Homo sapiens: one gene and its partners. The protein of the gene in region 1 interacts with the protein of each later gene in a pairwise test. Each region holds a gene or a part of one and is shown in the gene's direction. Other genes may lie near its edges.

Region 1 (2,889 bases):
TGGCTTGGTTTGGTCATGCCCGTCGATGTTTTGGGTATTGAATGTGGTAAGTGGAGGAAATGTTGGAACTCTGTGCAGGTGCTGCCTTGAGACCCCCAAGCTTCCACCTGTCCCTCTCCTATGTGGCAGCTGGGGAGCAGCTGAGATGTGGACTTGTATGCTGCCCACATACGTGAGGGGGAGCTGAAAGGGAGCCCCTCCTCTGAGCAGCCTCTGCCAGGCCTGTATGAGGCTTTTCCCACCAGCTCCCAACAGAGGCCTCCCCCAGCCAGGACCACCTCGTCCTCGTGGCGGGGCAGCAGGAGCGGTAGAAAGGGGTCCGATGTTTGAGGAGGCCCTTAAGGGAAGCTACTGAATTATAACACGTAAGAAAATCACCATTCCGTATTGGTTGGGGGCTCCTGTTTCTCATCCTAGCTTTTTCCTGGAAAGCCCGCTAGAAGGTTTGGGAACGAGGGGAAAGTTCTCAGAACTGTTGGCTGCTCCCCACCCGCCTCCCGCCTCCCCCGCAGGTTATGTCAGCAGCTCTGAGACAGCAGTATCACAGGCCAGATGTTGTTCCTGGCTAGATGTTTACATTTGTAAGAAATAACACTGTGAATGTAAAACAGAGCCATTCCCTTGGAATGCATATCGCTGGGCTCAACATAGAGTTTGTCTTCCTCTTGTTTACGACGTGATCTAAACCAGTCCTTAGCAAGGGGCTCAGAACACCCCGCTCTGGCAGTAGGTGTCCCCCACCCCCAAAGACCTGCCTGTGTGCTCCGGAGATGAATATGAGCTCATTAGTAAAAATGACTTCACCCACGCATATACATAAAGTATCCATGCATGTGCATATAGACACATCTATAATTTTACACACACACCTCTCAAGACGGAGATGCATGGCCTCTAAGAGTGCCCGTGTCGGTTCTTCCTGGAAGTTGACTTTCCTTAGACCCGCCAGGTCAAGTTAGCCGCGTGACGGACATCCAGGCGTGGGACGTGGTCAGGGCAGGGCTCATTCATTGCCCACTAGGATCCCACTGGCGAAGATGGTCTCCATATCAGCTCTCTGCAGAAGGGAGGAAGACTTTATCATGTTCCTAAAAATCTGTGGCAAGCACCCATCGTATTATCCAAATTTTGTTGCAAATGTGATTAATTTGGTTGTCAAGTTTTGGGGGTGGGCTGTGGGGAGATTGCTTTTGTTTTCCTGCTGGTAATATCGGGAAAGATTTTAATGAAACCAGGGTAGAATTGTTTGGCAATGCACTGAAGCGTGTTTCTTTCCCAAAATGTGCCTCCCTTCCGCTGCGGGCCCAGCTGAGTCTATGTAGGTGATGTTTCCAGCTGCCAAGTGCTCTTTGTTACTGTCCACCCTCATTTCTGCCAGCGCATGTGTCCTTTCAAGGGGAAAATGTGAAGCTGAACCCCCTCCAGACACCCAGAATGTAGCATCTGAGAAGGCCCTGTGCCCTAAAGGACACCCCTCGCCCCCATCTTCATGGAGGGGGTCATTTCAGAGCCCTCGGAGCCAATGAACAGCTCCTCCTCTTGGAGCTGAGATGAGCCCCACGTGGAGCTCGGGACGGATAGTAGACAGCAATAACTCGGTGTGTGGCCGCCTGGCAGGTGGAACTTCCTCCCGTTGCGGGGTGGAGTGAGGTTAGTTCTGTGTGTCTGGTGGGTGGAGTCAGGCTTCTCTTGCTACCTGTGAGCATCCTTCCCAGCAGACATCCTCATCGGGCTTTGTCCCTCCCCCGCTTCCTCCCTCTGCGGGGAGGACCCGGGACCACAGCTGCTGGCCAGGGTAGACTTGGAGCTGTCCTCCAGAGGGGTCACGTGTAGGAGTGAGAAGAAGGAAGATCTTGAGAGCTGCTGAGGGACCTTGGAGAGCTCAGGATGGCTCAGACGAGGACACTCGCTTGCCGGGCCTGGGCCTCCTGGGAAGGAGGGAGCTGCTCAGAATGCCGCATGACAACTGAAGGCAACCTGGAAGGTTCAGGGGCCGCTCTTCCCCCATGTGCCTGTCACGCTCTGGTGCAGTCAAAGGAACGCCTTCCCCTCAGTTGTTTCTAAGAGCAGAGTCTCCCGCTGCAATCTGGGTGGTAACTGCCAGCCTTGGAGGATCGTGGCCAACGTGGACCTGCCTACGGAGGGTGGGCTCTGACCCAAGTGGGGCCTCCTTGTCCAGGTCTCACTGCTTTGCACCGTGGTCAGAGGGACTGTCAGCTGAGCTTGAGCTCCCCTGGAGCCAGCAGGGCTGTGATGGGCGAGTCCCGGAGCCCCACCCAGACCTGAATGCTTCTGAGAGCAAAGGGAAGGACTGACGAGAGATGTATATTTAATTTTTTAACTGCTGCAAACATTGTACATCCAAATTAAAGGAAAAAAATGGAAACCATCAGTTGTTGCTGTGTGAGGCTTGCTTTGCTTCATGAGAACCTAGACCTTGCTGAGCTGGAGTCTTAGGAAGCAGTCTCCTAAGTGCTTCTCCAGCAGGGGCAGAAACTGTCCCACCAGCTAACATCTGGCATTATGGAGGGTCCCCCAGGCAGCTGCCAGCAGGGACAGGCCCCGTGTTTTCTGTAGCCAGGGATGAGGAAGTGGCCCCAGGGCATGGGCCTGGCTGGGTGCTTCTGCAAGGGCCTTCCCAAACCACAGTACAGGTGGTCTTCCTGCCCTGCAGATGGGAGCTGTGGGAGCTGCTGGAGCTGCTGGAGCCTTCATGGTCAAGTGACATCATAAGCTTATATGACATACACAAGCCTCAGGACTTGGCCCATGGCACTGAAGCAGGTCATCAGGCCCAGCACAGAGACTAGAGCTGTGTTCTCACAGGGCCCACCACCCTTCCACCTCCTTGGCCATTGACACCTGCGTCCCTGGCCCAGCTGCTCCCAG
Region 2 (3,500 bases), on another chromosome or scaffold:
CACAGTGCTACCAATGAGATGTCAGCAGTAGTTGTTGAGGGGTATTCTAGGAAGGCTTTTGCTATCCTGATATAAAGGGAAACTAGCATGCTTGCATGAGGATTTACCCTTCCTGCTCCATCTTGGTCTCGATCACTGGACCAAGGCACCCAAGGCTTATGCTCATTTTATCCAATAAGCCGTGATGAGATGTCTTGGGACTAAAACATTCACAACCAAGTTTCAAATAAAGAGGTTAATAGCTTGGCCTTCTGGTGTGGAATCAGGTGTGGAATATAGTGCCTATTGGGACCCCTTCTACTAAGTAGAAGTGACACTTTGAGATGTTATTTCTGTTTTGAGGGTTTATACACTCAAATCTCCAGCTGTCTCTATTCAAGTATATTTAGGACTATAAATGAGGGTCAGTGCAACTGAATCTTTTTTAAGGTCAAGTTGTTAATTTTCAAAGTAAAACAAAATTTTTGAAGTAGGAAAGGTGAAATGTTCATTTAGATAGCGTATTAGTCCATTTTGCATTGCAATAAAGAAGTACCTGAGACTTGGTAATTTATAAAGAAAAGAAGTTTATCTTGGCTTGTGGTTCTGCAAGCTTTTCAAGAAGCACTTGTCACACATGTCACCACACCTGGATAATTTTTAAATTTTTTCGTAGAGATGGAATCTCATTTTGTTGCCCAAGCTGGTCTCAAACTCCTGAGCTCAAACGATCCTCCTGCCTCAACCTGCCAAAGTGCTGGGATTACAGCTGTGAGCCACCATGCCCAGCTAGCTTTTACATTCTTAAATGGTTGAGGAAAAAAGGCAAAAGATGAATGATATTTCCTGAAGTGAAAATTATATGGATGGACACCAATGGCTGGGGGCACAGTGGCCTACACTTGTGATCCCAGCACTTTGGGAGGCTGAGGCAGGAGGATCACTTGAGGCCAGGAGTTCTAGACCAGCCTGGGAAACAGAGAGAGTCTTTGTCTCTACCAAAAAATTAAAATTAAGCCAGGCGTGGTAGCATGCACCTGAGAGCCTCCTCAGGAGGCTGAGGTGAGAGGATCGCTTCAACCAGGAGTTTGAGGCTGCAGTGAGCTGTGATCATACCACTGCACTTCATCCTCAGTGACAGAGCAATACCTTATTTCTAAAAAAAAGAAAAAAAGATTCTACTATACTGATGCAGTAATAAGAGCATTATTTTTTTTTGCTATGGTAATTTTTTTTTTTTTTTTGACATAGAGTTTCGCTTTTGTTTCCCAGGCTGGAGTAGTGCAGTGGCACAATCTTGGTTCACCGCAACCTCTGCCTCCCAGGTTCAAGCAATTCTCCTGCCTCAGCCTCCCAAGTAGCTGGGATTACAGGCATGCGCCACCACATCCAGCTAATTTTTGTATTTTTAGTAGAGATGGAGCCTCACCATGTTGGCCAGGCTGGTCTCAAACTTCTGACCTCAGGTGATCCAGCCACCTCTGCCTCCCAAAGTGCTGGGATTACAGGTGTGAGCCACCGCGCCTGGCACTATGGTATGTTTAAAAGAAAAACGGAGACATTAGCTTAGTTTACCCACATTGTACTTAGGTGAAATAAAAAATTGTTTATATCTCAGTTCAACAGTAGCATCTTTATGTATGTAACTAAGGTTGTGACAATAACACTTTACTTTCAGCATGCAGTGTCAGTATTCCAGGAATTTTTGGTCTTCTGTCTTTAATTGTTACTTTTTTAAAAAAGAAGCTTGATTGTACCACTGTTAATCATGTGATTTATTCTTTCAGCATCTACTGTGTACAAGGCACCATTTTAGCTCTGTGGTTAAAAGCATTCTTGATTGTTTATATGGATGGTAAAAATTATTCTTTAACTGCTCAGCTTTATGTTTTAGTCTTTAAAATTGCCAAGCGTAAACAGTGATGTTTTTACCAGATGTATAAGTGTTTTGGAAAAATTGGTTGTTGTTGGAGAAAAGAAGAACCATGTTTTTTATTTTTGTGCTATATCTTTGCAATGCACATGCAATTTCTTCTCCCTAGAATGTCCTTATAGATTTTTCTGTCCTTCTCAGGAGACTCCTTTTACACTTTAGTGTTTTATTATACTGTAGTTCCCGTCAGTGCTACAGCTTTGGAAGTAGCAGACTGATAGGGATGCTGTCCTTTGCAGGCTAGATATTAGACTCTCTCAGTAGTTGTAGATAATTAGCATCTGAGAGAGACTCACATGAGGCTGACCTAAAACTCAGTGATCAGAATGCTTGAGTCATCCCCCTTTTAAGTAGCATGGTACTTTTGGAAGAATTTTCCATCAGAGGACTGCTTAATGAGTTTAGAATCAGAAACAGAAATATAACGATCTGGAGCATGGATGTGAGATATTTCACTTAAGCTCTGGGAAAACCCAGTGTAATATTCCTACTTTACAACAACAACCTTTGTAGTAACCTGATAGGCTATACCTGTGAGATCCAGAATCTTTCTGAATGATGTTAAACATATACTTCATAGATTTTGCCTTTCTGAATGACTTTTAAGCTTTATTGAGGTATAATTGAGGTACATATTTTATGTATACATTTTGATGAGTTTGGGCATATGTATATACCCATGATATCACCGCAATCAAGGTTCTAAACATATGTATCACCTCCAAAAATTCTTTTATATATATATACACATACACATACATGATATATATGTTTTGGGGATTTTTTTTTTTTTTTTTAGAGATGGGGCCTCACTATGTTGCCTAGGCATGGCAAACTCCTGGGCTTAAGGGATCCCCCCGCCTCAACCTCCCAAAGTACTGGGATTACAGGCATGAGCCACTAGGCTCAGCCTCCTCCGAAAATTCTTATGTTTGAACCACATCTTTTGTCCTGGTTGCCCTCTTACTAGTTATTCATGTATCTCCTCCTCTAGAGATTGCTTCTTTATATTACTTAGAATTTTCCACAGTCTATAGCAAAATGCTTTGTGTACATTAAAAGCAATTAGTAAATATTTGTTAAAAGAATAATTATTTTAATTAAGAGGCATAGATTGTCTTTTCTCTGCATGTTTATATAATGTGATCATACAAAAATCCAAATATCTTATTTCTAATTATTTGTCAGTAATTTGTGACTTTTACCTAGTAATTTAGCACCTGAATTTCTACATATGAAATATGAATATAAGATACAAATTTTCAAGCCAGGCATGGTGACTCACACCTGTAGTCCCAGCTACTTAGGGGGCTGAGGTGGGAGGATCAGTTGAGCCTAGGAGGTCGAGGCTGTAGTAAGCCGTGATCAAACCGCTGTATTCCAGCCTGGGTGACAGAGCAAGACCCTGTCGCAAAGAAAAGATACAAATTTGTATCTTATATATTATCTGGAATGACTTTTTAAACATAATAAAAGTATTTTAGGTATTTTATAAGTACTTAAAGGTAATTCTGAAAATTTCTTAGACCATCCCCGTTAATTTCAGCTAGAAAAGTGATGATATAAGTTCACTTTGTTATGCTCATTC
Region 3 (4,210 bases), on another chromosome or scaffold:
AATACTCCTGAACTGGGAGGTAGCCTCCAAGCCTTGGTCATTTAAATAATTAAAAACAATGTCTCTCCCTTCCAATGCTCTAGGGAATGTTTAGCAAGCATCTGCTGTAGGCGAGGTCCTGAACTGGGTGACTTCCTATTTACCTCGTCAGTCGCAGGATAATCGTTCAGATATAGGAAAAGACAGCCGCAGCCTGAAAAAAGTCTTTTGAAGCTAACCTTCTAGGTCAGGCATTTTGAGGACCAGCGGAGAGATCCGAGGCCTCTAATCCTCGAAGCTCGCTCTCCCCTTCCCCAGGCTGAGACAGTCATCACTGAGGCTTTGGAAAGGAATTACCGAGGGTATAATTTGGGGTGGGGTGGAGACATCTATGTTTTTATAAAAAACCAGGTGCCATGAATAAAAATGTGCTTCCCAAAATGATATGTAGGCCTGGGGTGTGCAAACTTGGAAGCCGGTATTTCTGAGACTTGCAAACGAGAGGGAGGCACTAGATATTGGCGACTTTTCCTCCTCCCCCCCACCCCCATTACCCTCCGAGGCAAACACTGGCATTCAAACACGCACGACAAACACAGGCTCAAACAAACTCATGAATGCACACTTGCACTGTCTTGAGAAAAAGGTCGGATCCGGATCGCGCTCAGAAAGGAGGTTCAGGAGACAAGTACAGAGATTTCAACTTTCTAAAAGTGCGCTGGATTTGCTTTCTAGTGAGAGAGATGGGGACAACTGATTTAAATTCTTCACTCCGAACCATTTGGGAGAGAGGCACTCCTGACCACTTCTCGGGCTCCTTCCGGCCCCTCTTTTCCAGGGGAAAGAGTTGTAATAATAACAGTGGGCGCTTTTGAGCGCTGGCTAGTGGCGAGTTACTCTTCTAAGTGCATACATTTCTTTCACAGGGATACTGGCCTGTGAGTTTCAGCACCGACTTTCTGGAACTGTAAAGTAAGCCAATTTTGACGCATAGTAGGGGCTTCGTAAATGTTTCTGCAATGCTGTTTGCGAATCTTGAACTTATTCTGGCGGTAGAGGGAGAGTGGGATGGGCGCAGGGTCCCTTTTAAAGAAGGGTCAAAAGAGAGAAGAAATGGGACTCGGCGAACTTCCGCTTTAAATAATCGCTCTTAATTAGGTCTCGGGCTTTTCAGTTTCGGCGTGATTATAACCCTTCAGGGATCGCCTAATAACAACTCTGCTGACTGCTCCTGTAATTAACTCCTAATTTATTTCAAACAGGAAAAAAAAAAAAAAAAAAAAAAAGGAGGGGGGGCAGCCCCTTCGGGAAGAGCCAATCAGGGGCGAGCGTCTCTGGCGTCAGCGCCAGGCCCGGCGCGGATTGGCGGCGCGCGTCTCCCACTTCCCCTCGGAGGAAAGGCTCAGCTCCCAGCGCGCCCCTCCCGTCTCCGCAGCAAAAAAGTTTGAGTCGCCGCTGCCGGGTTGCCAGCGGAGTCGCGCGTCGGGAGCTACGTAGGGCAGAGAAGTCATGGCTTCTCCGTCCAAAGGCAATGACTTGTTTTCGCCCGACGAGGAGGGCCCAGCAGTGGTGGCCGGACCAGGCCCGGGGCCTGGGGGCGCCGAGGGGGCCGCGGAGGAGCGCCGCGTCAAGGTCTCCAGCCTGCCCTTCAGCGTGGAGGCGCTCATGTCCGACAAGAAGCCGCCCAAGGAGGCGTCCCCGCTGCCGGCCGAAAGCGCCTCGGCCGGGGCCACCCTGCGGCCACTGCTGCTGTCGGGGCACGGCGCTCGGGAAGCGCACAGCCCCGGGCCGCTGGTGAAGCCCTTCGAGACCGCCTCGGTCAAGTCGGAAAATTCAGAAGATGGAGCGGCGTGGATGCAGGAACCCGGCCGATATTCGCCGCCGCCAAGTGAGTGCGCGCCGGGGCAGGAGTAGGAGGTAGCGCGGGGTACTGGAGGGAGCGGGGGGCGGGTGTTCCAGGGCTGAGGGTACCGAGACCCTTCTGCGTGCGCTACACTCCCGGGAAAGCAAGCCCAGGGCCTCTGGACTCCTGGGTGCCCGGGGCGTTCGGCGCGCCCAGTGCGCCGTCCGCATCCAAGACACCCTCTGGGTAATAACCGCGCTGTGTGTGTCTGAGACTCCCTCGACATACAGATTGTTTTTTCAAGAGCGAACCCCAGCTGGGTTTACGGGGTCGCTCGGTGGTCCGTTTCTACAGCCCTCGGCCCTGCGCTCTGGCCACTTGGCTTGTTTTTGTTTCACTGTTCCCCGGAGTCTCTGCCTGGGGAGTGAAGGAGTTGGATCCATGTTCAGTGAGCACTTGGATGTACCAGGAACGAGACAGGTTCAAAACTCAACCCTGAGAGTTGTGCCCCCATTTTAAAGATGAGCTAACTGGGCTTAGCCAGACATTGAGGAGAAACCATTTTCTTTCGTGAGTCCCGCGGGTGTCGAAGCCGGATCCCACGAAGGGATGGTGGCACCAGGGATGGTGGCATCAGAGTCTGGTGCGGGGAGGAAATGTCTCTCTGTGGTCTCCGCAGCCAGCACCTCCCCGGCAAGGTTCTGAGCTTCGCCGGGAGCGGGCTGGGGCCAGAAGCGCACGGGCTCTTCTTGGCTCACAGTAATAATTAACCGCATTCCAGCAGGGCTTGAGAGTTTGCAGAGTGATGTTCACTAGCTCACCAGATCGAGATCCTCACTAGAACCCCCAAGTGTAGACACTGGACTTGTGACTACCCTATTTTTCAGACGTGGACGCTGAGGCTTTTAAAGAAGACGGCCTTTGCTTGTCCCAGGTTACCAACAACCACTGATTGGCCAGGGGCACCTGTTGCCCACGCCCTGCTCCTCTGTTTGATATGCCCTGACCACTTTTGCGTCCTCTCCCCAGAGAGACTAGGTAGAGATCCGCACCTGCACCCCACTTGAGAATTGAGGCTGCAGAGAATTCTCCGCTTCAGCATCCATTTTTGGTCCCTGAGTCCTTTTACAATTTGGAGACGTCATCCTTTACAGCCTCTTTTACTTTTATCTCTTGGCTTTTATGGTTTCTCTACCCCCTAATTTCCCACCACGCCATCCCCTACCTGTAGGAAAGGTGAGGGTGGGGGCTGTGGAGGGACTTTCTCCAAAGCTGAGAGAGATCCTTTCACTATTTACATCATTCAGCCCTCAAGACTAGACGCACTGTATTTTGTTAACAAAACAAGGCCATATACCCAGGCGTCAGTGGCTGTCCCCTCTGGCAGTCTCTCTCCACCCTGTTAGAAACTCTGAAAGATTCAAAGGGCGAGGAGATTAAGGGACTCAAAGAATTTAAACTCAAGTTTGGATAGTGCTTTATAGCACTTTTCACCGTATTATCTTATCTCCTCTGTAGGGCAGCAGCCGGCCTCTTAACAGATGAGGACATTTCAGCAAAGTTCAGAGAGGAATCGGCAGTTTGGGCCTGACCAAAAAAAAAAAAAAAAAAAAGCTGGGGACCATTTAATGATCACCTACCAGGTGGCAGACAGACAGGGCTCTGGGTACTCTTAAAATTTTAGTACTGTGGACCACATTGAGGGATTAGTGTTACTTACCCACTTTATCGACAGTGAGGTAGAGGCTCAGAAAATTAAAAGACTTAATTTGTTTAACAAATATTGAGTACATAGCCTACGCCTATGCCCAGCCAATGATACAGGCCTTAAATGGAGTAGTGTCCAGAGGTTAGGAATCCTGCCATCCTTTAGGCCTGTGGGTCTGGAAAGGCAATGACTACTACCCCTCTAAACATCTCTGCCCTGTGCTCAAGCTTCCCTGCTCTGGGTAAGGCAACCTCGGGCCCAGGCTGTGACCTTCCCATGAAAAGAACCAGAAATTCTGAGAACCGAGTTTATAACCTGCACATTCTGCACATGTATCCCGGAACTTAAAGTAAAAAAAAACAAAAAAACAAAAAAAAAACACCATGAAGAATTGTTGGTGCTTTGGGCCTGGAGGTGGCAGCGGGAACCCTGTGGTCAGAGTAGTGGGTCCTGAGAATGCCAGGCGACGGAGCCTGGGGCGAGAGGGAGCTACCCGCCCGGGCCTGATTTTGTTATTTGGAGGAAGTAGGATAAACGCTGTTTTGCCTTATATAATCGCATCCTTCCTCTGGCTGGTTTAAAATTAGGTGGGGGTGGAGGGATGGGGAGTGTTGCATTGGGAGGAAGCCTCATAGCTTCATGGTTTTGATACACATGTGCGATCCCGGTCACCTGGATTT
Region 4 (3,500 bases), on another chromosome or scaffold:
AATTGGTTGCTGTACCTGTTGTCATTATTACTGAAACGTTCATAGCATTATTCCTGTAAAATAGATGGCAAAACAGATGCAAAATAGATTGCTTTTGTATTGAAAGCCTGGCAGATACTCTCCAGGCTTTCAATATGAGTCTGGAGGCAATTTTTTTTTTTTTTTTTTTTTTAGTGGAAATAACTGCGAAACCACACTTCCCAAGCCCTTCTAGGATCTCTAATTACAATAGCCGGGAGGGCACATCCATAGCAGGCTTGCCTGGGCTGCTGCTTGGCTCACACAGCCTGTAGTTTGTACTCCATCCTTCCCACCAGCAAGAATTCTGCTCCTTTCACACCCACTTGGTGAGCCATGGAAATTACCTCATTATAGAGATAACTTTTAATCGGCTGTAATGTAAGGCACCAAAGCATCCACAAACTTCTGTGCTTGTGACTGTTATTAGTGTCAAATTACCTCCCAGTTACTGAGAAGTAAGTGGTCACAACCACTGCCCTGAAGGTTTTCCCCAAGGATCTTGGCAGTAAGGAGAAAGCCTGTCTTTCATTCTGGGATTTCTGTGTTATGAGGGCGTGTTTTCTGGGTAGCTTTGTTTAGCTTCAGGTGAGACCAAATTACTGGAAGTTGTTTGCTGCTCCATTTGGATGGCTGCCATCCTGGTAAGCTCTGTGAGGCTCTGGAATCCCTCATGACCTACTCATTCCACCGGAAATTAATGGGTATCAACTTATGTCTGTCTCCAGAGTGAGAAGGTCAAATGATAAGACAGAGGTTACCGTGTCTCTCCTGAACTGTAGCAGTCAGGTAGATTATGATAGAATATACTTTAGACTATTGGGATATTCTGTTATTTGAAGCCAGCAGTTAAAGACTATTATGAGGGTTGCACTTAAAATGAAATAAAACTTTCAATGAACAGTTATTTCATCTGTCCATCAGTCCATCCATTTGTTATTTAGCCAGTCATGAATGAGTGCCCAGCTTATGCGAGGCGTGGTGCTGGGTGCTAAGGTTACAAAGATGTGTAAGGTAGGGTCACAGTAGAAGAAGCTTCCAGAAGGGTGCAAGCTTCTCTGTGTGCAAGTGTCATTGTCTAGAGAGTACACAGTTCTGCCGGCATCTTTCACTCTCTCCAGCTCTTTACCCATACACAAGTGCTTGGCCAGAGTTTTATGGATTTGTTTGAAGGTAATTACTTACATAGCATTGTGACTTTACCCCTTTTTCCTTTGTTTTTATTTTTTAGCCTTTTATTTCTAAAAAATTAACAGTTGCCAGTAAGCATTCACTTGTTTTGTACATTTGTGGCTAGACACAAATTGGCCTTCACCTACTTATTAAAAAGTTTTGTGGACAACCGCATTCACCAGCTTTTAATATATTATTATCTTTTGTTATTCAGTGATTAACATAGATTTAAGGAGAAAGGAGAACCTATCCTCTTCTTTAAAGCAAAATCTGATAGGTCATGCTTAGGTCCATCACTGTCTTGGCGTAAACTGCCCTATCATTGTAAAGGTAGTTCTTCTCTGTACCAGATGCCTTCCTTGCTATCTTGACTTGTGAGGGAAGTATTACCTTTGTACTTCTCAGTGTTTTATTGTTTGCTCCTGCTGGGGAAGTGTTACAAGTGGCTTTCAAATAAGCCAGAGGAATTCGAAGCCTCCTCCTTCCATCAATATTCACCAATTGATTGAGCACTCTTTACTGTTGCTGAAAAAGGAAAAGACACCATTATCCAGTGGAGGGGCTGAATAAGGCAGGAAGGGGCCCATAAAGTGCCTGTCTCCCTCTGTAACAGTTCCCACCTTTGCTTCCAAGGCAGAATCCCCCTGTGACCCATGTAGAGCACGGCATACATGTAGCAGCACAAAATGTGGAAGCGGCACCTCCTGGACTGTGATGTGGCTGCTCAGTGTTTGCATTTTCAGTGATTTCTTCTTACGGGGGTTTCAGAGCCTTGTCTTGAAACAGGACACGACACAACTGCCTACCACCTCCCCAGATCTTAGCCTTGACAGCCAACTCCAACAGGCCACCTCCCCACTCCATCTCTCTGAAACTCTGAGGAGTGGACATTACCTCTCCGTGGCTTTTGTCCTCCCAGGACCCATACACAATTGTTATTGACACAATTCTGATACTTGGAATTAAATGTGTTTGTGGCTGATTGAGACAGGTTTACCATCCTTTCTTTGTTCACGGAAGTACTTGAAGTTTATAAACAGGCCAAAAATAGTAAATACCCTGCAGGTTAGTCATGGTTTGGTTCCAGGTAAGCTAATAGTCCTTTAAAATTTTCTTTTAACTGTTCACATGGCTGCAGGATTCCAAGGAATCCATGTTAATCATTTTAAATTATTTACTGTTGACATAAAAAATAACAAGTAGAAGAACTGGAAAGCAGCAGGTAGACTTTGGTTGAGTTTCTTCTCTTCACTTAGGGCTTGTGTAGAAATGGTTTCTTGAGAAGATTGGTCTCAAACCTGAGTAGCTGTTTGCATTCATATCTCTTTGCTAAGAGTGTAAAAAATGAGGGTGAGGGTGTTTGGCCATCACAATTTGTGGGTAAAAAGCTGGAAAAAGAGAGCCCTGCCCAGCAATCTGGAAAGATGTGGGGGTGGCAGCTCCTTTTAAGAGTTTCTAGATTAAGAATGGAGACTTCTTCTCTCTATACAGGTGGGGTGGGGATGATCAAATTCATCCCCTCTTGCTATAACTTAGCTGACCCTATCACTGTTGTTATGAAAAGGAGCCAGAAAATACCGGTTTATTTCCTGTCCGATTTATCTTTCTTAACATTCCTTGGGTTTTCAACAATTTCTGTTAAAAATTTCTGGTTTTCTAGTAATCATTTTCAAACACCTCAGTATTTGTTAATATTAGCTGGTTTAGTCCACACTTGGCCCAAAACAAGAGAGGGTACTGTGTTCCTTTTCCTTTTCCCTCCAGAGGTGATTGCTTGTTGCATAAATAATTTTTAGATTGCCCAAACATATTGTTGCTTGTAAATGTGTATAACACCAAGCGTAGGCCCCGGCCTGCCTTAGTCATCACTTAGTAAGTGCTGGCTCCTTCCCCTCAACTAGACTAAATTGTTCCGATTAGATCAAGATGACATCTTCCTCCAGATGAGAGATACCGCAGGATGAGGATTGCAGGTGACCTGTCCTCTTAACGGGTAGAGGACAGAAAGGAGGAGGTCATAGCAGGGGCTGACTATGACCTCACCTACATAGCTGAGCCAACACCATTTTAACCACCTGCCCCCAACCCACCACGCCCCCCCGCCCAGGGCTGACCACTCCTGGCATGCTTATCATGGCCTGGGCAGATGGGAAGAGACTTCACAGCCAGCTTCTTTTCCTCTAGGGCACCAAGGGAAAGGACCCGACGTCCGGAGCCAAGGATGGGAAGAGCCTCCTCAGCGGGCTGGCCACTGGGGAGTCCGGTTGGTCACAGCACCGGCAGCGGCGCCTGCAGGACCATGGCAAGGA

What was found. Proteins that work in one complex are often made in the same cells at the same time.
Region 2: the proteins of HTT (region 1) and KLHL20 interact in binary tests that used the Homo sapiens proteins (3 or more experiments, as listed by UniProt).
Region 3: the proteins of HTT (region 1) and MSX2 interact in binary tests that used the Homo sapiens proteins (3 or more experiments, as listed by UniProt).
Region 4: the proteins of HTT (region 1) and WDR91 interact in binary tests that used the Homo sapiens proteins (3 or more experiments, as listed by UniProt).

Annotation. Positions count from the first base shown.
Region 1 is NC_000004.12:3,241,569-3,244,457, forward strand, and holds the end of HTT (huntingtin), read left to right. Parts: 3' UTR 1-2,389; downstream 2,390-2,889.
Region 2 is NC_000001.11:173,721,481-173,724,980, forward strand, and holds part of KLHL20 (kelch-like protein 20), read left to right. Parts: intron 1-3,500. UniProt on the Homo sapiens protein: Substrate-specific adapter of a BCR (BTB-CUL3-RBX1) E3 ubiquitin-protein ligase complex involved in interferon response and anterograde Golgi to endosome transport.
Region 3 is NC_000005.10:174,723,172-174,727,381, forward strand, and holds the start of MSX2 (homeobox protein MSX-2), read left to right. Parts: upstream 1-1,410; 5' UTR 1,411-1,488; coding exon 1,489-1,867; coding exon of another isoform or gene 1,868-1,893; exon of another isoform or gene 1,894-1,896; intron 1,897-4,210. UniProt on the Homo sapiens protein: Acts as a transcriptional regulator in bone development. Represses the ALPL promoter activity and antagonizes the stimulatory effect of DLX5 on ALPL expression during osteoblast differentiation. Probable morphogenetic role.
Region 4 is NC_000007.14:135,198,027-135,201,526, reverse strand, and holds part of WDR91 (WD repeat-containing protein 91), read left to right. Parts: intron 1-3,375; coding exon 3,376-3,500.